7 linked regions of the Homo sapiens genome follow. The protein of the gene in region 5 interacts with the protein of the main gene of each other region in a pairwise test. Each region holds a gene or a part of one and is shown on either strand. Other genes may lie near its edges.

What was found.
Region 1: the proteins of WWP2 (region 5) and ENTREP1 interact in binary tests that used the Homo sapiens proteins (3 or more experiments, as listed by UniProt).
Region 2: the proteins of WWP2 (region 5) and WIPF1 interact in binary tests that used the Homo sapiens proteins (3 or more experiments, as listed by UniProt).
Region 3: the proteins of WWP2 (region 5) and PDLIM7 interact in binary tests that used the Homo sapiens proteins (3 or more experiments, as listed by UniProt).
Region 4: the proteins of WWP2 (region 5) and LGALS9B interact in binary tests that used the Homo sapiens proteins (3 or more experiments, as listed by UniProt).
Region 6: the proteins of WWP2 (region 5) and ARRDC1 interact in binary tests that used the Homo sapiens proteins (3 or more experiments, as listed by UniProt).
Region 7: the proteins of WWP2 (region 5) and LITAF interact in binary tests that used the Homo sapiens proteins (3 or more experiments, as listed by UniProt).

What each region holds. Positions count from the first base shown.
Region 1 is NC_000009.12:69,373,715-69,377,214, reverse strand, and holds part of ENTREP1 (endosomal transmembrane epsin interactor 1), read right to left. Parts: intron 1,480-3,500; coding exon 1,351-1,479; intron 1-1,350. UniProt on the Homo sapiens protein: Functions as an activator of the E3 ubiquitin protein ligase ITCH in the ubiquitination of the CXCL12-activated CXCR4 receptor. Thereby, triggers CXCR4 endocytosis and desensitization, negatively regulating the CXCL12/CXCR4 signaling pathway.
Region 2 is NC_000002.12:174,570,305-174,573,804, reverse strand, and holds part of WIPF1 (WAS/WASL-interacting protein family member 1), read left to right. Parts: intron 1-1,358; coding exon 1,359-2,129; coding exon of another isoform or gene 2,130-2,212; exon of another isoform or gene 2,213-2,636; intron 2,637-3,500. UniProt on the Homo sapiens protein: Plays a role in the reorganization of the actin cytoskeleton. Contributes with NCK1 and GRB2 in the recruitment and activation of WASL.
Region 3 is NC_000005.10:177,487,605-177,491,104, forward strand, and holds part of PDLIM7 (PDZ and LIM domain protein 7), read right to left. Parts: coding exon 3,406-3,500; intron 3,303-3,405; coding exon 3,266-3,302; intron 2,990-3,265; coding exon of another isoform or gene 2,893-2,989; exon of another isoform or gene 2,642-2,892; intron 2,428-2,641; exon of another isoform or gene 2,229-2,427; coding exon 2,167-2,228; intron 2,024-2,166; coding exon 1,789-2,023; intron 645-1,788; coding exon 464-644; intron 1-463. UniProt on the Homo sapiens protein: May function as a scaffold on which the coordinated assembly of proteins can occur. May play a role as an adapter that, via its PDZ domain, localizes LIM-binding proteins to actin filaments of both skeletal muscle and nonmuscle tissues.
Region 4 is NC_000017.11:20,457,540-20,461,039, reverse strand, and holds part of LGALS9B (galectin-9B), read left to right. Parts: intron 1-596; coding exon 597-688; intron 689-2,655; coding exon 2,656-2,857; intron 2,858-3,500.
Region 5 is NC_000016.10:69,936,832-69,940,331, reverse strand, and holds part of WWP2 (NEDD4-like E3 ubiquitin-protein ligase WWP2), read right to left. Parts: intron 3,215-3,500; coding exon 3,094-3,214; intron 2,785-3,093; coding exon 2,680-2,784; intron 1,306-2,679; coding exon 1,209-1,305; intron 992-1,208; coding exon 919-991; intron 492-918; coding exon 392-491; 3' UTR 1-391. UniProt on the Homo sapiens protein: E3 ubiquitin-protein ligase which accepts ubiquitin from an E2 ubiquitin-conjugating enzyme in the form of a thioester and then directly transfers the ubiquitin to targeted substrates.
Region 6 is NC_000009.12:137,608,686-137,612,185, forward strand, and holds part of ARRDC1 (arrestin domain-containing protein 1), read left to right. Parts: intron 1-3,500. UniProt on the Homo sapiens protein: Functions as an adapter recruiting ubiquitin-protein ligases to their specific substrates. Through an ubiquitination-dependent mechanism plays for instance a role in the incorporation of SLC11A2 into extracellular vesicles.
Region 7 is NC_000016.10:11,548,920-11,552,419, forward strand, and holds part of LITAF (lipopolysaccharide-induced tumor necrosis factor-alpha factor), read right to left. Parts: intron 2,886-3,500; coding exon of another isoform or gene 2,804-2,885; exon of another isoform or gene 2,788-2,803; intron 827-2,787; coding exon 718-826; 3' UTR 1-717.

The sequences.
Region 1 (3,500 bases), on a different chromosome or scaffold from region 5:
AAGTGCCCAAATAAATGCTGGCTATTATTATGACCCTCATGCAATAATGTGTACTTCTTAATTCCAAAAACTTATCTTAGAAGCTTTCTGTCACAGAACAACGTGGTATGATAGTATTTCTTTTTGCAAGCATCAGAATACTGTCGAGAAACATTCCTTCCAGGAGAGCAGTGAGCTTCTCTTCTGAGGCTGATTTCCCCAGGGATAGCAATTCCCAGCCTCCTCCCTCCCACAGCCTCCCACCAGCACAGCACACTGCTTAATTTGTGGCCACTAATTCTATTTCAAGAGCAATTGGCTGTGCTGCCCCATGCACACGACGAGGACACTGAAGGAGCTGGCCCAGCCAGAGTGTAAATAGGACTTCTCTCCACTAAACACACATCTCAAAATAGCAAAGGCCATTCCAAACGCTTCTGTTGGTACAGTCCTGGCTCCTTGAGTGGGGCTTTCCCCAAGCTAAGTCCTGGCTCAGAAAGTTTGGGGGTGACTCAGCTACCAAAAATGCAGAAGCCATGGAAAGCAGGCCATTTCCACATCCCACACAACCCAGAGCTGGTAGCTTGGAACAGTTCTCTCTTTCCTTGGAGATTCTTCCTCCCCACCAAAATGAAACCCAAAACAAATATCTAAAGAAAACCGGCAGAAGTGGACTCTCAAAAAGCCATACCTCAGGGTTCACCAGTTGATTTTGTCACTCACTGAGCTAATGTTCCTTAAGTCAGGGCACAATTTTTATCCAATTCCCTGATGAAGGCTAATTTTGTATTTCTCTTCAACTGGGATCATCTGTTTGTTTAATACCTTTGGCTTATTATAGTTGTTGCTTATTAAACAAGAGCTAAGGTGCTTCAATTCCCCCATATTTTCTGGCCAATCTCTCTCCTTAGTCTACGTGTTGCAGACTGGTAGTACTCAGTGGCCCATATGACCCATGTAAGCAAACAAATGAGCATCAGAACAATGACACACGAGTGTGCGACTTAAAGGTTTTGCTAAAAGCTACACCGTATATGTGTGTGTAGGTATACATATGTACGTATGCATATGTTTATATGTGGAAATATGTGTGTATGTGTATACATATACATATATATAGTCAGGCTCCTTTCCATTTTTTACTATCTTACAGTTCTTCAACACAAAGAAAGCTGTCCATACATAATTTAACACACACAATAATCTGTGGTTCTTTCTGCATTCAATTCTGTCTCTGGGGTCACTCACATGCGCTTTCAGCAGCTTAATTGTTTGAGGGAGGTAATAGAACAGGAATATTTCAAGTAAGTTTGCCTTCTTTGGGGGCTCCGTGGTGTATTTACCGTGCGGGTGGGAATCTGTTTGAGGTACCTTAAGTAGAAGGTGAACAGCACTACAGGGCTGAACCGGAAAGAGTTTCAAGGCATTTTCTTTGTCTGTGCACTTGGCTGGTTGAAATTCTTCACAACAGAAGCAAATCTTGCCTTCACCTAAGTCCACCTTAACGGAGGAAAGGTAAAAAAAAATACTTTAATTATTAAGAAAAAATACCCTGGCTCTACCATGGAGCACCAATCCTGTAGAATGAGATGATGGCAGGGTTCTGTGTCAGGCAATGCCTCTATCAGTCAGGATGGGCTAGGGTATAGCATGGTAACAACCAAAACCTAAATTTCAGTGGCTTTCACAAAACAAAGGGAATTTTAATATTCCTCCTTTCTCCTTTAAAGTCTCCAGCTGAGAACTTCCTGTTTTCATACTAATCCTGTTTAGTACTAACAAACAAGCAGCTAAATGAGATGAAGTATCAGCCTCCATTCTGCTCGTGTACATGAGTCCCACTCTTCCCCAAAAGGAACCAAACTCACTTTTTTTTCCCCAACACAATGCACTCTGATTTTCATTTTTTGCACTTGGTGCAAGCCTCAAGATCTTAACCTGAAAGCTCTATCTCTCTCAGACAATACTAGGCATCATCTTACAAAATATTCCCTTCCCAAACAAGTCCATTCTTGATACAAAGCGTTTAGTTAAGTGGGAAACCAGGCCTATGTGGGCTGCACACACCATATAACATAGATGTCCAGCTCTTCAGAAACTTCAGCTACCTGGCACCTCTGGAGTGAGCCAGTCTGGATGGCAAAATTTTCCAGATGGGTGAAATTCAGTCCCTTTAAACAACCCTATTTGAAAGTTTACTCATTATACAAATGATCACGAATACCAATTAATTTTCCCACTGGATACAAAGAAACCTCAGGCACTGTGCAAAATGATTCCAGGCAACTGTGCACTGTGCGTTCCTTCTCCCCTATTCCTGATCCTTGCAGAATCTAATACCTTCACCTCCATTCTTAATCCCATCTCTGCCCAATATTTCTAAAAACTTATTCTCACTTCTCATCAGTCACTTTAGCCTATCCACAAACAAATTTGTAGAAGTCTCCCTGATCCTAAATAATGAACATCCACCCTGCATTCTTGGTGCTACTGCCTGAAGAGGTCAGATCTTTGTCTTCCCCCTGTCACCTTTCAATAGCAGCATTCTTAATCCTGCCTGTACATTTGAATTTTCTGGAGAGCTTTTTAAAAAATGATGATGCCATCTTAAGCACTCAGGGAACTACAAATTAGAGTGACAGCAAGCTCTCACTCTGGCTTCATCAGACTGGCACAACTTTAAAAAGAGAGAAACTCTCTTTGCTGGTGGAGACGTGGAGAGCCACTGGTAGAAATTCACCAGTCACTGGTGAGTTTAAGCCCTTTAATGAAGGAACTGACTATCCATTTTAAATTAAAAATACTCACTTCCCCAACCACTTTGGAAAACTCTTTAGCACCGCATCATCCAGCAGCTCCGTGCCTAGGTATTCACTCAAGAGAAATGAAAACTGCCTCCCCAAAACAATAATGCTCACAGCAGCTTTGTTCATAATACCCCCAAACTGGAAACAACCTAACTGTCCATCAACAAGAGAACAAAAAAACAAAAAAATTCTGGTATTTTTATAAAATGAAATAGTGTCCTGAAAAAAGGAACAAACAACAGATACAATATAAAAATATGGATGAATTTCAACAACATTACACTGGGCAAAATAAGTCAGACACAAAAACTTTCAAACCGTGTGACTCCATCTACATGAAGTTCAAGGACATGCAAAACTAACCCATGGTGAAAGAAACAGGAACAGTGGTTGCCTATGAGAGAGTAGAGACTGCCTGAAAAGAGACACTAAAGAACTTTTTAGGGTGACAGAAATATTGTTTGGAGTACAACAAACAATATTTTGTTTGGAGTATAGAAATTGTTTGGAGTATAACATGAGTGTATACATTTGTCAAAATGAATGTATACATTGGTCAAAACTTATAATGAACTGCACACTTAAGATTTGTGTTTTTCACTGTAACTTCTACCCCAATTTAAAAGCGATGGATAGAACAATAAAATGGTTGAATTTGTAATAATAAATGAGATAAGCAGGAGAAAAGATACTGCTGAGAACAATTCCTTGTCC
Region 2 (3,500 bases), on a different chromosome or scaffold from region 5:
ACCCCTTCTGTCCTGCAGGGCTCCTTGTGACTAACCCCTGCTGGCCACTCAGGCTCCACTTCCCATGGATCTCTCCCATTCTCACTGTGCCCCGGGCACATGGGCCCGTTTTTGAACTTGAAGCTCTTTCCCACCTCAGGGCCTCTGCACCTGCTGGCCAACCCTGCCCAAAGTGCTGGTCTTCCTCATCTTTCCGTGGCTGACTCCTTCTTGTCAGGCCTCAGCTCACATGTCACATTCTCAGAAGAGCTGTCCCCAGCCACTCCATGTACCCTGGCCTCTCCAAGCACTCTTGATCTCATCGGCCTATTTTAGTGTCTTTTTAGTACATATAATTATCTGAAAGTATTTATTTCCTGGTTTATTGTTTATCTCCCCCCACAAGAATGTAAACTACAGGAATGCAGAATCTTTTCTATTCTGTTTACTCCTCTGTCTCTAGTCTCTAGATTAATGGCAGGCGCATAGCAAGTGCTCAAAATTATTTGGTACACTTATTAACTCATAAATGGGTAGATTTTTTTTTTTTTTTTCAGAATTACCTTGAGTTCCAAGAGATTCTGGGATGGTGGTTTGAAATTTTCCATCTCTTTGGTTCCCCCTTTAGTTTCTCCCTTGTTGAACCAGAGCAGTTATGGGATTATTCTGTCCTGCCAATACTGAAGCAGAGGTTGACGTGGTACCAAAAAAAAGTTGTGTAGTTGCCTGCTTCTTTGTAGATGAATTCCATCCACTGGTGTCAACTCTTACAATTAAACTTTACTGATGGTTCTTTTTCCTTTCTTAGTTTTTTCTTATTGCAGTCATAACTCTTTTCTTATAATTTCCCCTTACAGTTTTCCACTTTTTTTGGGGCATTTCTCTTCATAGGGACTAGATAAGCCCTCACATTTGGAGATTTACATTGGGATAATTAATTTTTTCACCTAAGACAGCTGACTTAGTTTCAAAACTGAGAGGTACAAGGGCTGGGAGACAGAGATGGTGATGAGGAAAAATGAAAATCATGATTCTACCAATGCCATCTTGTTCTTGTCCTCTCATAATGAATAGGCATCTCACCAGAACTCTCGCCCACTTCATCCTGGCTCTTGCCTATACATAATGCTAAGAGATATTTGCAGAATCCTTTTGAAAGCTCATAGGCTGTAGAAGTTGGGACTCGCAGGTAAATAGAGCTATGGTCGATTTTCTGCTCCCAAGAAGGACCAACAAAACCCAATTTATATAAATAATAGTTTCCTGTATTTTATAGCCCTCTGAGGAAGGGACTTCCAGTCACTGGGAACAGACTCTAGCTCTCTGATTTCTTCAGGGTTCCTGATTTCCTAACTGATGTTTGTTTTCCTGTTCTTCAGATTCTGGAGGAAGCCGACCACCATTGTTGCCACCGGGAGGAAGATCCACATCTGCGAAACCCTTTTCACCCCCAAGTGGCCCAGGGAGGTTTCCTGTGCCTTCTCCAGGCCACAGAAGTGGTCCCCCAGAGCCTCAGAGGAACCGAATGCCGCCCCCAAGGCCCGACGTGGGCTCAAAGCCTGATAGCATTCCTCCTCCAGTACCTAGTACTCCAAGACCCATTCAATCAAGTCCGCACAACCGGGGGTCCCCACCAGTGCCCGGAGGCCCCAGGCAGCCCAGCCCCGGGCCCACTCCTCCCCCTTTCCCTGGAAACCGCGGCACTGCTTTGGGAGGAGGCTCAATACGTCAGTCCCCCTTGAGCTCCTCCTCGCCCTTCTCCAACCGGCCTCCCCTGCCGCCTACCCCCAGCAGGGCCTTGGATGACAAACCCCCTCCACCACCTCCTCCAGTGGGCAACAGGCCCTCCATCCACAGGGAAGCGGTTCCCCCTCCTCCTCCTCAGAACAACAAGCCTCCAGTGCCTTCCACTCCGCGGCCTTCGGCCTCCTCACAGGCCCCACCTCCGCCGCCACCTCCCAGCAGGCCCGGGCCGCCTCCTCTGCCTCCAAGTTCCAGCGGCAATGACGAAACCCCAAGACTCCCACAGCGGAATCTGTCCCTCAGTTCGTCCACGCCCCCGTTACCTTCGCCAGGACGTTCAGGTCCTCTTCCTCCCCCGCCCAGTGAGAGACCCCCACCTCCAGTGAGGGACCCGCCAGGCCGATCAGGTATGACAAGACGTGGAGTGAGTTGCTTCCAAAACCCAGCCTGCCCAAATGTACCAATAATCCTGTCAGTCAAGATAGTCTAACAAAAGCAGGCATAAGTAAACTCAGACTGCTTTGTGCTTTTAAGTGGCACACGACACGTGTGATCGTGACCTCGTGTAAACCCCGGGGGAAAGTGGGACCAATATTTCTGTTGGTGTTTTAGAGATGAGGACACTGAGTAGCTAATAAAGTTAAATGGTCACGAGCTAGTTAATAAAGAAGAGGCAAGAACTTTCATCTTCCATCTCTGAAGTGTACTTGCCAGTCCACTACCCTGCCTCCCTAGAGAGAATTTCGGCGGTCTTAATTGGGAAAATAAGTCCCCACCTCCCGCAGGAGGGCTCTGTTATTCCAACAAGAGGGGAAGTTCTTCAAGAGCTAATGAACTTCTCCTGTACTTCTCTCTTCATTCGCCAGGCTTTGAGGCCATTTCCCTATTCATTAAAGACTAATGTTTAAAAAGTCCATTTTGCTCTTTGTAATCTCTGGTACATAAATCCCTTGGAGAATCAAATAAAGGTATAGACTATCTTTACAAAAATACTCAGGCATAAACTCAAAATTTGCCTGCTGTCACATGGCTTGAAGAGCCTGCTGAAGCCCATCTGAGACCCTTCCAATGCCCCCATCCACAGTTGAGAAACCTTGATCTGAGGGACAAACTTTCAGAGTATGAAAGGAAATGTGAGGATTGCCTAGAGTTTGCCCTCTCCGAATTATAATAGGCATTTTTAGTAGAATATGCTCACTTGATGCGTTTTATAGTGGTTATGGATGAACTCAGTAGAACCACCCACTTTTAAAATTGAATCTCATCGTACAGACCTTATTATGTCTGGAAATGGGGCATTTTTTTCCTTTACGCAGAGATAAGAGACCTTTGACCCTGTGACCTCAGGAACCTCATAATCACCATTCTTTAAACTTGCTCACGTACTGGAATCATCTGCGGAGCTTTAAAAACCACCAATGCCTGGGTCCCTTCCCGGAGTCTCTGGCATAATTGGTCTGGGGTGCAGACTGGGAATCAGGATATTTAAAAGCTCCCTGGTGATTATAGTGTGCAGCAGAATGTGAGAACCACACCTTGAAACCATTGTGCCATGGCCCTACCAAATGGATGAGTCAGCAGATTAAATCTTCCCCAAAATATGACAGGCATTGACATATAACATTTATTATTTCTTTTGATTACGTAAGTCATACTTGTTTATTATAGAAATACTGAAAAATATAAAGAAAATTAAAATTAATCCTTCTACCACCACTATCCAGAAATAATCATTGATAACATTCTTTTAATGTGTCCTTTCAGTCTTTTTAAAATGC
Region 3 (3,500 bases), on a different chromosome or scaffold from region 5:
AAGCCACCATTATTTTGAGTTTCCCACTGCTCGTGGTCAAGGTAAACCTCACTAATATGAACATCACCACACAGAGCTCTCTGGCTACTCCTGGCAGCCCTGGCTCTGGATCCAGAAATGAGGAGGACGCATGAGACAGAGCAGCTTCAGCGTGTCAAGTTGGCCGTTCTGTCATTTCACCAGGGCAGGGAGAGCCCAAAGTGGGAGTCAGGAGGGCCCAGGGCTTCTCCTGGCTTGGTCCTCCTGCTCTTTGCAGCCTTGGGCGGTTTCTGAGCAGGAACATGGTCATTTGTTAAGAGCATCCTGACTAATGCAGGGTGAGGCCAGTACAGCAGCCCATTTATTACGCTGGTAAGGACCCGGAGGGCTCACTCGGGGAGAGACCTGGACTGTGGGTTTCCCAGCAGCCCTCGTTCCCACTGACAGGCTTGGGACCACCTCCCCGCCAGCCAGCCCTACTCACGCCTGTAATCTTCTTCTTGCACTTGGCACAGCTGGGTGCATAGCGCACGTCATAGCATGGTGGGCAGAAGATGGCGCCCTTCTCCTCAAAGAAGCCACCCTCTTCCAGGACCTTCCCACACTGGCTACACACAAACTCCTCCGGGTGGTACGCGTGGCCCAGCGCCACCAGGTAGCGGCCCCTGCAGGGAGGCGAGAGCGGTCAGAGGGAGCACACGCAGAGAGGTGGGGGTCTTGGCCCCCTTCAGGTTGACTGACCACCCACCAGGAGGCCTTGGGAGGGACAGTTCATTCTCCCCATTTTCCACATAGGATAGAAGACAGGCTTGGGAAGTGACCGTGGCAGCCGTGAAGCTTACAGAGCCAGTCCGCCACACTGAACTGCTGGTGACAGGAGAGGCAGCTTTAGAGCAGGGAGGACCCCGGGAGGAAGGGCTGACGACTGGAGCCTCATAAAAGCTGAGCCGCCCCTGGGCAAACCCTGGAGCTGCCCTGTCCTGCTGGCCTGCCTGTTCTACCTGGCAAGAGCTGATAGAGTCGGCTGGGCACAGTGGCTCACACCTGTAGTCCCAGCACTTTGGGAGGCCAAGGCAGGCCTGAGATCACCTGAGGTGAGGAGTTTGAGACCAGCCTGGCCAACATGGTAAAACCCCGTCTCTACTAAAAATACAAAATTAGCCAGGCATGGTGGCGGGTGCCTGTAATCCCAGCTACTCAGGAGGCTGAGGCAGGAGAATCTCTTGAACCCAGGAGGCAGAGGTTGCAGTGAGCCGAGATCGCGCCACTGCACGCCAACGTGGGCAACACAGTGAGACTCTGTTTCAAAAAAAAAAAAAAAAGAGCTGACAGAGATGAGAGCAGGCCAGGCCTGCGAATTAGGAAGGCTCTAGAATCCGGCACGCTGATGCTGGGGGGTGTTTGATGCTGCTTGGCCCCACGGGGCAGTGCACAGAGGGAGTGGCTCCAGGCCTGTATGCTCTGAGAGCAGAGGGAGACAGAGAGCAGGAGGGAGGGGCAGACGCGCTGGGAGGGGGCAGGCCCCTCTTTGCCCAGAGAGCAGCAAAGGTAGGGGTGCAGCTTCAGCCTATGGTTGGCCCTTCGGCTATTTCGCCACGGCAGATGCTGCTAGCAGTTGTTGTGGGTGGGCTGGGGTAGGTAGCGTGGGATTAAGAATGGGAGGACCCAGCCCAGGTCCCTACTCCTACTCCAGCTGAGAACTGAATCCTTATTCCCCCCAGTCGCAGCTGAGGCAAGACAGGTGGGCAGACAGGTGGGGCTGGGCTGCAGGATGGGAAAGCCAGGGTCGGACAGGAACAGGCCACCCACCGGATGACCTTGTGGCACTGGTGACACACGGGAGTCTTGCCGTTGTTGCTGCCCCCTCCTGGCACCCCTCCGGCAGCTGCCTGCACAATGGAGGTGCGGCTCTGCAGCGGCGTGGGCGTGGCCGGCTGGCTGTGCCGGGTCAGCACTGTGCTCGTTTTGTCCGGGGCATAGCGCTCGGCAAACGCAGGGTCCACAGCCCAGGGCGGGCGGCTGGTAGGGCTGGGGGCGGTAGGGCCTGCCGGGGAAAGTGACTCTAAAGGGGTGCCCAGGGACCCCAAAGGACGGGGGTGGAGCCCCAGGCAGCTGAGAGAAGCCCACCACCCCCATGCCCCTGGAGGCTGCCCACCCTTGCCCAGGCCCGAGCCCACTCCCTCTCACCAGGCCAGGGCTCCTGGGGTGTAGATGAGGCTGGGGCTGGGGCTTCTGTCCTGGGCACCTGGCTGCAAGATCTGCCATTCAAGGCCCTGCATGGCTGAGCTTCCTGACATGGCCCCACCCCCCAACCTGGGTCCTGCTGGCCCCACGGGAGATGACTGGGGGCGTGGAAACTGCCGAGTTGGATTCCAGGTCCCACTGGGGTAGGGATGGGAAGGGCAGCTTCTCCTAGCAATGTCCAGTTAGCTGGTGTGCGGTCTCTAGCTGGGAGACGAGGCAGGGCTCCCGCTTCTGAGGCAGCTCCTGGGGTTCCCCTCATGCCAGGAAGCCATCTGTGATGGCAGGGCAGGGCCCCTTTGCCAGGTACCCCCTCCCACTGAAAACGAGGACGGCAGGGCCCAAACAGTCCGAACCACGAAACACCCCCACACCCCAAATGCAAACCAGGTCCACAAAGATAGAAGACAGGCAGAGCAAGCAGGGCTGAGAATGTTTATTCCATGCCCAAGGCAGCACAGACCTGGCAGACAGCAGTACCACAGGGCAAAGAGGGAAGGCAGTGTCAGATGAACCCAGGTGGGCGGCCAGGGCCAGGCCAGCAGGAGGCTCAGGCCAGGGGCACGAAAGGGGGGGTGAGGTAGGCAGAAGCTGGAGGCACTAAGGGGGTGCCCTGGGCAGGAGGAACAGAAAGAGGGAGGCAGAGAGGGCAGCCGGCTGGAGAGGGCCGGGCTACGACTGCACGTTGAGCACGTGGGCAGAGCGCTGGTGGTGCCAGTCCCGGAGGCGGGTGTAGCGTGGGCTCTGCAGCTCCAGGACATACTTTTCCCTGAGGGGCAGAGAGAGAGGGAGGAAGAAGTGGAAGGAAGGAGAGATGGAAGGGAGGCAGGGAGGGAGGAGGGAAGGAAGGAGGGAGGGAAGAAATGAAAGAAGGAAGGAAGGAGGAAGGGAAGGAAGGAAGGAAGGAAGGAAGGAAGGAAGGAAGGAAGGAAGGAAGGAAGGGAGAATTGAGAGCCCCAGCTGGGAGCCTCAGGAGTAGACACAGGGCAGTAGCTGGAATGGAAGAGGCAGGAGGTGGGAGAGGGGCTGGTGCCCGTCCCTGTACCTTGATTTCTTCAGGTGCTCCTCATCCGGGTCTTGCACTGAGAGGGCAGAGGCAGGCATTGACCAAAAAAGACACAGGGTCAGGGATCACGCCTGGGCTGGGGGCGAGGAAAGTACCCCCTGCCCTGGGCTGGCACTTACTGAACTCGGTGCCTGTGAGGTGGGCAAGGATGCGGAAGGAACGCGACTGGCCTGTCCCCGGCCGCGGCCGCCAGTCCTCTGTGTTCTCCATCAGC
Region 4 (3,500 bases), on a different chromosome or scaffold from region 5:
CTGAAGGTGGTCAGGAGGGCAAAGGTCATGGTGGCCATTGTTATATGGTGGTGGTGGGGAGAGGTGCATGCCTTCTTCTTGACACTCTCTGGTGACCCTCTCGGTGGAACCTGCAGACCCTTGATGGGTCCCTTTGTTCCCTTGGGCCTCCTGAGTCCCCAGCCAGGGCGCTGGGCACTTTGCTGGGAGCTTGGCATGGGGTCCAGCAGCCCCATTGCTACCTAGTTCCTTACCAGCCCAGGGCGTCTGCCTGCTACTTCCCTGCCTGGAAGGAAGGCCTTCCGCCTGGAGCGTTCCTGGTGTGGCCTCCGCTGCCTCTCAGACTCTCACACAAGCTCAGCTCCCTGTCGCGTCCTCTCAGGGCCAGGATTCTCCTTATCACAAGCTTAGACTGTCTGAGTAACTAATTGGATTTGTGTCTGCCTCCACACAGGACCCTAAGACCCGTGGGGCTGAGACTCCTTCTGTCCTGGTCACAGCTGCACCCTAGCCCCTCGCATGGTGCGGTCACACCCAGGCCAGCCACTGACTAGCCCCGAAGGGGAGCAAACAGGAGGCCGGCCACCTGACTGAGGCCCCATGTCTTCTCCCTGCAGGCCGTCCCCTTTTCTGGGACTATCCAAGGGGGTCTCCAGGACGGATTTCAGATCACTGTCAATGGGGCCGTTCTCAGCTCCAGTGGAACCAGGTGTGTGTATATGGATGGAAACGTTTCACTCCAGCCTCGTCCCTTAGTAAAGCCACTGTGCCTGTGAGCCTCGGTTAGTTCAAACAACAACATCCAAGCTCACGTGCCTGGCGCAGGGGAGACCCAATGCATCCTTAACCCATGCCACAGGACAGCACTCCACAGGCACAACCTGCACCCAGGGATGCCATTAACCTGGACTCCAGGATGAATGGGGCCCTGGGAGCTGAAGGTCTAAGGAAGGAGTGGGATGGTCAGAGTTGGATGATTATGTTCTGGGCTGAACCTTGCACACTGTGACTGAGAGTTGCAAAAATCAAACTTCCTCCGTTTCCCATAACTGCTTTCATCCACTCTGAAGCTCTCCTTCTGCTGACATGAAAATACTGAAAATTGACATCCGAAGTAATTTGGTCTCTTTCGGTTTCAAGGCCTTTTCTGGAAACTACTAAGTCCATTCAAAATACTAACATTGTATCAGGGCTGTTTCCCACCCCTTCCTCCCTCCCAAGGTGGGCTGTCTGGGAACAGAGAGGAGCTCACGTGGCTTGTCAGTGGCTGGGAGGGCCCCCGACCCTCACGCAGGCCTGGCTGACCCCTGCCGAGGCATCCTGACTGGGTGGCACAGAGGTGTGCAGCTCTCTCCTGGTTTAGTGAGGGACCACGGGTGGCTGCCTGCTGAAGTCTGCGGGGCCCACAGAAGAGCCTCTGGACTCATGGCTCTCTCTCGGAAGCCTCTCTGCCTCAGTCCCAGTGGACCTCTCTTAAGACCCTCTGGGCCTCGTAGATGCCAGCTCAACCTCAGCTCCGCCACCTAGATTCTTGATGACCTCCTCCGCCATTGCTATCCTGCTGTCGGACTTCTCTGAGAGCCTGCAGTGCCCCCAGGAGATGCCAAGGGCAGGGAGGCCCTGATCCCCCTGAATCCTCCAACCGGGGGAATCAGAACCATGCCTCTGATCTTCCACCCCTTCCTCTTTCCCTCTCCCTCTGTTTCCCCCACCTCCCAGCACCAGGAGGGCTTCCCACTCCCATCCTGTTGCACAGAGACAGATCCTACCTCAGAGGGCCCTCTCCTCTCAGGAGCTTTCTGTCTCTCCCTTCCTTGGGGCAGGAATTTCCAAAGGGCCACAGGAATGAAGCTGAAGGTCTCCAAAGGAAAAAAATACATGCAGTGATATTTCAAATGCAATCTTCTCCATTTATTCATTTAATTAATTTATTTTTTTCTTTAGAGACAGGGACTTTTTTCTTTCACCCAGGCTGGAGTGCAGTGGTACGATCATAGCTCACTGCAGCCTCGACTTCCTGGGCTCAAGGGATCCTCCCATCTCATCCCCCAGAGCAGCTGGGACTATAGACATGCATCATGATGTCTAGCTAATTAAATATATATATATATCTTTTTGTTTTTTAAGTAGAGATGAGATCTCGCTCTGTTGCTCAGGCTGGTCTTCAACTCCTGGGCTCAAGTGATCCACCCACCTTGGCGTCCCAAAGTGCTGTGATTACAGGCGTGAGGCACTGCGCCCGGCCCCGATTTCACATGCTCTTTACATTTGTTCTCTTCTTTCGCACTTAATCAGGCATGTGCTGGCCTCCAACAAGTGTCCACTGGCACAGAAGCCTCTCTCTTCTAGGTGTGCTTAACAACTTCCATCTTTGTTACCAACTGGTAATCACTTTCCAGGACCTATGCTTCTTGTTTGCTAATGCCAGCACTTTCCCTTAGCCATTTTCTACTTATGTTTAGAAAATCGTGCTGTAAAGGCAAAATGCAATAATCGCACAAAAACACATTGGATCCAAATTAGAGAAACAAAAACGATGCCAACCAAGCAGTCTCTGCCACGCAGGTTGTATGCAAGATCCCAGACAAACACAGGGCAGAGGCACCGAGGCCCTCCTGTGCCTGTCACTGGCAATAATCCATGCCACAGAAGACTATTTGCTTTTCCTGGGCCTAGGTTTGCTGTGGACTTTCAGACGGGCTTCAGTGGAAACGACATTGCCTTCCACTTCAACCCTCGGTTTGAAGACGGAGGGTATGTGGTGTGCAACACGAGGCAGAAAGGAAGATGGGGGCCCGAGGAGAGGAAGATGCACATGCCCTTCCAGAAGGGGATGCCCTTTGACCTCTGCTTCCTGGTGCAGAGCTCAGATTTCAAGGTAAGCAGGAATCCCCTCCCCACCTCTCGCCCACGGGACTCCCAGCCCTATCAGGTGAATGTGAATGGCCTTTTAAGTAACCACTTTAATTGACATTCAGCCAGAGTGACACCACCATACAGATAACATGACCATTTCCTTGTAAGGGTGTTACCCATGGCTGTGTAGTCTCCTTACGCACCTTCACCTGAATCTACAGGTGCACCTCCTGCTTCTTTTACTCTGAAAATAAGAACTAGAGGAGTCATCACGTTGCTGTTAGGTGTTGTGTGTCTTTGAATTCCAAGCTCATTCCATTCCTCTGCTATCACCATACCTCCTCTCCAGGTCCCTGGTAACATTTATTTTTCAGCGACATTGTTCCAGCCTTTATCCAGAGTCTATTACGGTTATAGTTCTGTAAGCACATTGCAAATTACCTTTGCAAGCACAGTAGGTCTCTGGGCTTGAGAAGCCGGTGGGTAACTCAGTCTGAATATGCTTATCTGAGATAAGGATGTTCCCATCCATTCAGTATGCAACCCGATGTCACCTCTCCTCTGCTCCCCGTGAGCATTTTATGCATATTTAAATAATACCCCTGCAGTCCTAAAAAGGAATGAGATCATGTCCTTTACAGGAACATGGATGGAGCTGGAAGCCG
Region 5 (3,500 bases):
GGCCAGTCTCCTCGCCGAACTAGTCCAGGAGGTCTCCGGCCTCTGCGGCAGCCCCTGGGGATGCAACACCTTCCCTTGCACACTCACATACACCCAGGGTGGGGTCTAGAGGACAGGGGAGAGTTTTGCAGAGAGGGTCAGCCCTCTGGAACTTTGCAAAGGTGGGGCCAAAGGCAACTAGGGGGCTTTATTCCAGACTGCCATCCGCGGGTCGGGGGAACTGCAGGGCCTCCTGGGATCAGGCTTTTCTGCCAGCAGCGAGATGACAGTGTGGTCCCACACAGGGCCACATCCACGGGGGCCTCCCAAGGGCTGCGGGGCCAGTGGCCTCTCAGGCAGGGAGGACTCAGGACTACATGTGCGCTGGGGGGCGTGGGAGGGGCGGCCTCGGTTACTCCTGTCCAAAGCCCTCGGTCTCCTCAATGGCATACAGCAGCTTCTCTCTCAGCTGTTCGTAGCTCTTGTAGGGTGGAAGATCCAGACGGTTGAAGCTATTGAGAGTGGGGAAGCACGACAGTCAGCCCTAGGAGGCCAGGGCTCTGATAGCCCCACCATGCCTGCCTGCAGCAGGGCCACAGGGCTTGCACCACACTGGCTAGGGCTCAGGGGCTGCCAGTCAGGCCTTCACATTGCAGGTGCCTGGACCATGGGGTGTTAAGGGAGGGGCCAGGACAGCTGGAAATTGGTTGCGGGGGACACTTGGGGCAGTAGCTCTTGGACTACTGGAACAGAAGTGCTTCATATGTAAAACCCGGTAGATCAGATGCCCATCACAGCCCCATCTCTCCAACCCAACACCCCAGGGCCACGCAAAAGCTGCCAGACTCGAGGCTATGAAGCTGCTACACCCACTGGGCTGTCCCAGGAGCTCATCGGGTCTGAGGCCCCCCGACCTCCCACTAAAACCAGCAGGCTCACCAGGTGTGGCTTCTGGGCAGCCAGGTTTCCTTGCCAACTTTGTCAATGCAAAACTTCTGTGGTCCGTTGCTACCTGTGATCCAAGGTAAAACACGCCGACGTCAGCAGAGACGTCCCTTCCCAAAGCAGGATCCTCCGGCTCCACCCACAGATGGGCTCGGCCCCAGGATGCAGAGGCCACAGCTCTTCTCCATCCCACTGACGTGCTTCCAGGAAGAGACTAGGTTTCCCCCTCCCTCTGAGCTGTCCGCACTGCCAGCCAGGACGCCAGAGGGCGAGAGAAAACATACCGATGAGTTCGGCAAATCCCCCGACGGGCAGGCGGCAGGTACCGGTGACAAACTGCAGCAGCCGGATCCTCTTCTCGTTGTCCATCTCCTTCACCACCTGGAAGTCCGCAAGTCAAGGCACAGTCAGGCAACCCACGGGGCCCAGTACTTTGCCCGAACGTGGAGCTCTCTAGCTCAGCGGGGCCCCTCTTTGGGGCTGAGAACACAAAGCCAGGTTGGCCAGGGGATGACAGCCTCCAACCTGAGAAACCCCAGAAGTGCTTTTGCTAAGAGGCTGTGTGTGCATGAGATTCCCACCAGTCCATGGGACATCTCTGGGTCTCAGGGACACCTCAGGCTGGGTATTCTCTTCCCATCCACGTTCTGCTTTTAGAGATGACTAAATATGGGAGTGACTGCTTAATGGGTATAAGGTTTTTGGGGAGATGAAATGTTCCAGAATTAGATAGTGGTGCCAGGTGCACAACACTGTGAATGTACTGGAAGCCACTGCTCTGTCGCCCAGGCTGGAGTGCAGTGGCACGGTCCAGCTCACTGCAGAGCAGTGGCACGGTCCAGCTCACTGCAGTCTCCACCTCCCAGGTTCAAGTGATTCTCATGCATCAGCTTCCCGAGTAGCTGGGATTACAGGTGTCCACCACCATGCCTGGCTAATTTTTTATATTGTTAGTAGAAAGAGGGTTTCACTATTTTGGCCAGGCTGGTCTTGAACTCCTGACCTCAAGTGATCTGCCCACCTCGGCCTGGGTGGGAAGCCAAGGAACCCAAAGTGGAAAGCCACTGAATTGTGTATCTTAAAAAACTTAAATGGGTTGGGCACAGTGGCTCACGCCTGTAATCCCAGCACTTTGGGAGGGTGAGATGGAAGGACTGCTTGAGCCCAGGAGTTCAGGACCAGGCTGGGCACCATAGCAAGACCCTGTCTCTATTGAAAAAAAAAAAATTAATAGTTAATTGTATGTTATACAAATTTCACCTCCACAAAAAATTTGTATACGTACATATGCACACAGACATGTACTAAGAATACCTGTAATCGCTATTTTTTTTTGTATGCTGTATTTCATAACGACAACAACAAAACCCATACGTATAAAAGAATCAACACATTAATTATACATAGGATGACAGCTCTTTCTGGTTTCTGGAGCCAAGCCCCTGCCTTCCTGTCCCATCTGGCTGGCAGGGGACCTCTCAACCAGTGGCAGCTGCTGTCTGCCTGCAGGTCTGTCCCTGCACACCAGCTGGCCCAAGGCTGACCACTGACGACCTCCTGTCACATCCACTGGCCACCACTCAGCTGGAACTGTCCCCGTTCATCCCAAGGCTGGTCTATCGTCTCCTTTTGCAAGGTGTGGGAGGCAAGGACAGGGCCAAAGCTGAAGGTCCTTGCGCGTGAGGCCTCCTCAGGACCCGTTTCCTTTGGTTGATGGCCCAAATGTCCCTGCCAAGGCCTGGGCCCGGGACCCACCTGCCAGAACCACTGGATCTGCTTGCTGTTCTTGGTGTAGTGCCGGTAGATGGTGCTCTTCTGCCAGTCGCTCATGTCTATCTCCTGCATGCCGCACAGCATCAGCTGGGGAGAGGCGGCAGTCAGCATCCCCGGCAGGTCCCTCCCCGCGCATCGTCCACTCGCTAGCACTTGACATTACCCCAAACATATTCAACTAGCTATTTTTGGTGTCAGCGTTAATAATATGGGTAATGTAAGTCCCTGCTTTCTTGAAACAAGTGTCTGGGGAAGGGTGGGTCCCAAATCAAACCCATCTGCCCTGCCGAAGTGGGAGTTTTACGCTGAGTGTCTGTGGGTACACAGTGAGCGTATCACAGAGCAGGATCGCCCCAGAGGCAGGGGCTCAGGGTCCCAGCAACCTCAGACACTCACCTCCAGCTCTTTCTCGTCAAAGTAGCGCAGCCACTCCAGCGGGGCCACCTCGTTGAAGCCATCCAGGAAGGCTTTGGTCTGCTCTTCCACGCCTCGGGTGAAACGCCAGTCAGTCAGCAGCCTGAGACCAAAGAGCAGCCATGGGTGGAGTCTGAGACCCACTGCTCAGGGGTGGCTCCCGGCCAGGCCGCGTGGCCGTTACCGCGCAGGACCACCAGATCAGCAGAGCCCACTTCGCACACCCAGACCCAGCCTGCTGGAGGACCTAGAGTGAGGCCCTGAAAACCTCACAGTGACCTGCAGACACCGGAGTCTTTGAAATCATCCTCACCACCACCTCCTCCTGCTCCTGCCCCCAGCGCCGACTGAACCTCAGACGTATGGAAGCGTGGAGATAAAGACTAAAG
Region 6 (3,500 bases), on a different chromosome or scaffold from region 5:
CCCTGGGAAATTCACCCAGCCTGACCTGAAGCAGTTGCTGAGAGGCAGAGGAGCAGCTCCAGGTGTTTTGGCAGGGAAGCAGCTGGCAGCTGTGCGGGAGCCCCTTGCCTCCCGTGTTCTTACTGAGGAGTGTGTGGGGCAGCTCGGGACAGGTTTCACTTTGGACAGTGGTTGGAGGCTGCTTACTCTGGCAGAGTCATCTCAAAGAGCCTTGGTGTATGTGCAAAACGGGGCCATCTGCATGGGCGTTGGGAAGATCACAGAACCTGGACCCTTAGGATGACCCAAGGGTCAGTTGCATACTGTTTGTTTTTGTGGAGTCAATGTCCCATGACGGTTTTCGCGATGCTTTGCTAGTAGGAGCAGTGGCGTGTGAGGCTCCCGGTTAAATACCATGAGATTCTAAGCGGAATTCTGGGTCTCCTGGTATGCACAGGTAAAATTACAGTAGACCTGTCCCACTCTTTGCCAGAACCTCGTACTTGTCTGCAGTTTGACTGGAATAAGGGGTGTTTGTGTTCCACCTCCCTCCAACGTGTGTTGAGACATTTATTTATTTATTTATTTATTTACGTTGCTCTTGTTACCCAGGCTGGAGTGCAGTGGTGCAATCTCAGCTGCTCACCGCAACCTCTGCCTCCCTGGTTCAAGTGATTCTTCTGCCTCAGACTCCCGAGTAGCTGGGACTACAGGCACGCGCCACCAGGCCTGGCTAATTTTGTATTTTTAGTAGAGACGGGGTTTCTCCGTGTTGGTCAGGCGGGCCTGGAACTCCGAACCTCAGGTGATCCGCCCGCCTCAGCCTCTTAAAGTGCTGGGATTACAGGCGTGAGCCACTGTGCCTGGCCCCAAGACATTGATTTTATTTGAGATGAGGTCTCACTTTGTCACCCAGACTGGAGTGCAGTGGTACAATCTTGGCTCACTGCAACTCCTTCCTCCGGGGCTCCCACCACAGCCTCCTGAGTGACTGGGACCAGGGGCACGCGCCACCACACCCAGCTAATCTTTGGTAGTTTTGGTAGAGATGGGGTTTCACCGTGTTACCTAGGCTGCTGTCACACTTCTGGCCTCAAGCAATCCGCTCGCCTTGGCCCCCCAAAGTGTTGGGATTACAGGCGTGAGCCACTGCGCCCAGCTGTGTCGAGACATTTAATATTTGTCAATCTGATGGATTGAAATGGTAGGTCATTTGGGCTTTCCCTGCAAGCTCCACCTTCCGGGTTCACGCCATTCTCCTGCCTCAGCCTCCTGAGTAGCTGGGACTACAGGCGCCCGCCACCACACCCGGCTAATTTTTTGTATTTTTAGTAGAGACGGGGGTTTCACCGTGTCAGCCAGGATGATCTCGATCTCCTGACCTCGTGATCTGCCCGCCTCGGCCTCCCACAGTGCTGGGATTACAGGCTGAGCCACTGCGCCCGGCCGGGTTTTCTGTAATTTCTAGTGAGGTTGGACATCTGTTCCAGTTACCTACTGCTACGTAAAAGTCGCGGTCACCTCAAGTCAGACACCATTCTTAAAACAGTTAACACAACCATTTTATTATATCTCACAGCGTTGTGGGTTAGGAATCTGGACAGTGAGGGCAGGGTTAATCTTCAGTTCTGTGCCACCAGCTGGGATCACTTGAGGGTGCTTGGCTGGCATACGGGTTAGTCTGGGGACCACTGCCCCCTTTCCGGCATCCTCTGTGGGTTCCAGCATTTTTCTTTTTTTTTTCTTTTTGAGATGAAGTCTCGCTCTGTCACCCAGGCTAAAGTGCATTTGTGCGATCTCAGCTCACTGCAACCTCTGCCTCCTGGGTTTAAGTGATCCTCATGCCTCAGCCTCCCAAGTAGCTGGGATTACAGGCGTGTGCCACCATGCCTGGCTAATTTTTGTATTTTTTTTTTGAGATGGAGTTTCACTCTTGTTGCTCAGGCTGGAGTGCAGTGGCGCGATCTCGGCTCACTGCAACCTCCGCCTCCCAGGTTCAAGCGATTCTCCTGCCTCAGCCTCCCTGGTAGCTGGGATTACAGGCATGTGCCACCATGCCCAGCTAATTTCGTATTTCTAGTAGAGATGGGGTTTCTCCATGTCGGTCAGGCTGGTCTGGAACTCCTGACCTCAGGTGATCTGCCTGCCTTGGCCTCCCGAAGTGCTGGGATTACAGGCATGAGCCACCGTGCCCGGCCTTTTTTGTATTTTTAGTAGAGATGGGGTTTCACCATGTCAGCCAGGCTGGTCTTGAACTCCTGACCTCAAGTGATCCACCCGCCTTGGCCTCCCACAGTGCTGGGATTACAGGTGTGAGCCACTGCACCCAGCTGGGTCCCAGCATTTGCGGGATTCAAGGTGGGGATGTGCAGTCTGTCAGGAGTGTTAAAAGCACGGCAGCATTTCCAGTCCCCAGGCCTCCTCTCCTTGCTTCAGCCACGCCCACCCTCCTCTGTGCCTGCTCATGCCCATGTGCTTCTGTTGGGCTGTCTGCTGGTCCACAGGAGGATTACTGGTGTTCCGGATTTTCAGCATGAACACAGTATGGGGTCTGGCCCGAGGAGGGCCTGGCTAACAGAGCATGGATTCAAAATCAGAGCAGAGCTGGGTACCGTGGCTCATGCCTGTAATCCCAACACTTTGGGAGGCTGAGGCAGGTGGATTGCTTGAGCTTAGGAGTTTGAGACCAGCCTGGACAGCATGGCAAAACCCTGTCTCTATAAGAAAAACAAAAAACAAAAAACAAAACCCAGGTGTGGTGGCACGTGCCTGTAGTCCTAGCTACTTGCGGGGCTGAGATGGGTGGATCGCTTGAACACAGGAGGTTAAGGCTGCAGTGAGCCGAGATCGTGCCACTGCACACTAGCCTGGGCGGCGGGAGTGAGACCGTGTCTCAAAAACAACAACAACAACAACAACAACAAAAAAACAAAAAATGGACCGAGGTTGGGGTGGCAAGGCTGGGCTGGAATGGAGGCTGAGGACAGGCCCTGGCAGCGCCCGGGGGTAGAGGGCGTGCAGCAGGAAGCAAGGGCCACCCTCAGGGATGGGGGACTGGGCCTGGCAGCTGCCGAGGGGTAGGCAGGATGCATGTGGAGAGCCACGTGGGGCTGCGGCTGAGCCAAGGATTGTGAGAGGAATCCTGCTGCTCTGGGTGGCAGGCAGAAGGCCTGGGCCACAGGTGGGGCCTGCTGGGGAGACCACAGGTGAGGCAGGTATGGCTGACCCTGGGCGCTCGGCACACCGGTACTCCTCCTGCCTGGCTGCTCCCTCAGCAGGTGTCAGAGTCTGAGTCACCTTTTCCTCACGTGACCCCCACCAGGACCAGGCAGGGAGGTGGCCATCTTTGGCCCTGACTCAGCCCTGCAGGGAGAAGAGGGGCTGGAGGTGCAGGTGGCCTGCCACTGTCTCCCCCAACCCCTGCCCACCTGGGTCTTGTGCTGTGTGTACTTCTGCTGCGTCTGTCCTCCCTTGTGACCAGCTTCTGCTGGACCTGATTGTCCAGCCATGATCTTCTGATC
Region 7 (3,500 bases), about 58 Mb from region 5:
GGGGCACTGAAGATCTGGCACAGAGAAACAAGGGGAGACAGGGCAGTGATAAGATCCAGCCCTATTTTTCTAGCATGCATTTACGACCTTGTGGATATGTCTGTACTGGGTGTTAATAGCCCCCTCCTTGTATTTAAAAAAAAAATTAAGAAATTAAAGTGAATCTGTGTGCTAATGAAGTCTGCAGTTACAGAATCTCAAAGCCAAGCCTGTAAAGTCTGTAAGGCAAGATCTTTGTCATCAGGGACGGGAAGAGACGGATAAGATAATGGTAGGCACTAAAGGCTGGTTCAGCCGAGCTCTGGGCAGAACAGCCTCAAAAATAAGGCAACTGTGGCTTCTCAGTTTGAGACTGCCACCAGAAAGGCCCATGGAAGCAGGAAAAAAGAGCCACTGATGGCAGATCACAGGAAGATATTCGGATAGGGCAATGATCACAGTTAGATGGCAGGACTCAGGGTCTCAGGGAGGCAGGAAACCGTGGAACTGACACTCAAGGGGAATGTCTTTGCAAGTCCTATGCACGACTCCAAGCAGCAATTTCTGGGGTTTGGAGATTTGTTAGTTTTGCGACGTATTCCCCCCAAAAGAAGACATGAAGGTGGGCCCCCTGGAGAGGTGAGACCACCAGGGCAGAACCTCCACCAGGCGTGAAGCTGGATGAGAGGTGGAAAGGACTTCCTGCGGCACCCGGCTCCCTCCACGTCTGGCTGAGTCCTACAAACGCTTGTAGGTGCCCAGGAGAGCTCTGCAGTTGGGACAGTAATGGTCCACGTCCTGCAGGGCATCCACGCAGAAGGGGATGAAGCAGCAGCCCGCTATGCACCTGGGAGGAGAGAGAGACACACGGAGCGCGTTACTGATCACAACAGGGTGAACACTGGCTGCCAAAACCATGTTCATGTCCTTCTTTGTAAAAAGGGTCTTTGCCAGTATAATTAGGAATTTTGAGATGGGATCATCTTGGATTATCCAGGCGGACCCCTAAAACCCAATGACCTTAGAAGAAGAGGAGAGGACACACAGAGATACAGAGAGGGCAGAAGGAAATGTGAAGACAGAGGCAGAAGCTGGAGTGATGAGGCCATAAGCCAAGGACACCTGGACCTACTAGAAGCTGGAGGAGGCAAAAAATGATTCTCCCTGAAGCCTTAGGAGGGAGCGTGGCCCTGCTGACATTTTAGTTTTTGGTTTTGTTTTGTTTTGTTTTTGAGATGGAGTCTCGCTCTGTCGCCCAGGGTTCAAGCAATTCTCCCTCCTCCTGGGTTCAAGCAATTCTCCTGCCTCAGCCTCCTGAGTAGCTGGGATTGCAGGCGCATGCCACCAGGCCCAGCTAATTTTTTTATTATTAGGAGAGTTGGGGTTTCACCGTGTTGGCCAGGCTGGTCTCAAACTCCTGACCTCAAGTGATCCACCCGCCTTGGCCTCCCCAAGTGCTGGGATTACAGGCGAGAGCCACCACACCCGGCCCCTGCTGACATTTTGATTTTGCACTTCTGGCCTCTAGAATTGTGAGAGTTAATATCTGTTGTTTTAAACACTAGGTGTGTTGTAATTTGTGATGACACCCCTAGGAAATTAACATGCCAGCCAATGCCAAGGCTCCTCCTACAGACAGAGCCCCTTTGAGTATTATTTTCAAATCTGGGGTCATTTGGGAGTCTTTCAAAGTCTTAGATGGGCTTGGTGAACTTTTTTTGCAAAGGGACAGATAGTAGATCTTTTAGTCTTTTTGTTGCTGTGTTTTGTTTGTTTTTGTAGAGATGGGGTCTTGCTATGTTGCACAGGCTGGTCTTGAACTGCTGGCCTCAAGTGATCCTTCCACCTCCGCCTCCCAAATTGCTGGGATTACAGGTGGAAGCCACCACACACCCGGCCACATACTTTCATCCTGATGAGCCATGGCGTCTCTGTTGCAACTGCTCAACTCTGCCCTTGGAATGAGAAGACAGCCACAGAGAATCCAAAAACCAACAGGCGTGGCTGTGTTCCCGTAAAACTTAAAACAGGCGCCTGGCTCCAGGGTCGTTTTGCCAACCCCCGTCTTACTGATCTCTTTTCCATATAGACAGGCTGCTTCTTACAGCAACCAAGTAGAGTTCCCCAAATAATGCCTCTTAACCTACATAATCCACCTTTGGCACACACAGGCAGGAACCTCAGACCGCCTGACAACCAATGTTTGCCAAAAATGGAGTTAAAACTCAACCCTTCACAGGAAGACGCTGGTTTACATAAAGCAGAATTTGGAAATATTCTGATGAGGAAATTATCTCATGAAAGAAATTTCCTCCTATTGCCTAAGCTTTCCAGAGCTCAAATAAGGGCAGTCAATCCATTCAGCAGGAATCCTAACCTATGGCTTACAGGTGCAGGCACGGCTCCAGGCAGCACACACACATATTTCATCCTCAGCAGGCCCTGAGGTGGGCGTTATTGCCCCGCACCCCCGTCTACAGATGGGGAAACTGAAGCACAGAGAGGTAAAGTCACTTGCCCATGGCCACACAGCTAGTGAGAGGCAGGATTTGAACCCACTCTACCATGTTTAAGGAAGGAACAAAGGGAGGGAAAGAAAGGTTGCCTCAATTTCTAAAGCCAGACTGGCAGAGGCCAATACTCAATGTAAGTTTCTATTCCTCTATAATCCCAGCACTTTGGGAGGTCAAGGCAGAAGGACTGCTTGAGTCCAGGAGTTCAAGACCAGCCTGGGCAACATAGTAAAACCCCTGCTTCCACACACACAAAAAAAAAATTTAAAAATTAGCTAGGTATGGTGGCACACACCTGTGGTCCCAGGTACTCAGGAGGCTGAGCTGGGCGGATTGCAGGAGCCCAGGAGATCAAAGCTGCGGAGAGCTACGATCGTACCACTGCACTCCTGCCTGGACAACAGAGCAAGACTCAGCCTCAAACAAAACAAAACAAGTTTCTATTCCATCTTTCCCTGATTCCAAAGATAAAAAATTTGTTTTAATACAAATATCCAGAGGCAATGGACTTTTTTTTTTTTTAAGCATTTTCTGCCCACAGAATGAAAACAACAGCAGAGTCCTGTGGGCAAGAGGGGGAATCAGGTGCCCAGAAAGCTGTTTTGTCTCCTTCCTTCCTTATTTAACACATGACCTCAAGGAAGTTAACTAAACTCTCTGGGACTCTGAGCCTCTTATTGAAGTTAGGAAGAGAAATATTGTTCCTTCTCAACCTCAAGTCACCAAAGGACAATGTGGAGGAACGTGCCGGTTGCATGAGGCTCCTGAAACTCACAAACACCGTTTCCTTCAAGGAAAAGAATGGAGCCCCTTGGGGTTTTCTGAGTGGCTCACGTGGCCAGGTATAAGGAAGCTACTTTTACCTGCTTGGTGGGAAACAAAAAATTGATTGTGTTTCCTCAGATTTTTCTCCCAGAACAGAAACTGTTATCTCTTTAAACATAATACCTTTGGTGCAGACATAAAATTTATATAATTTCCCTGCATGGGCAATGGGAAAAATACTTC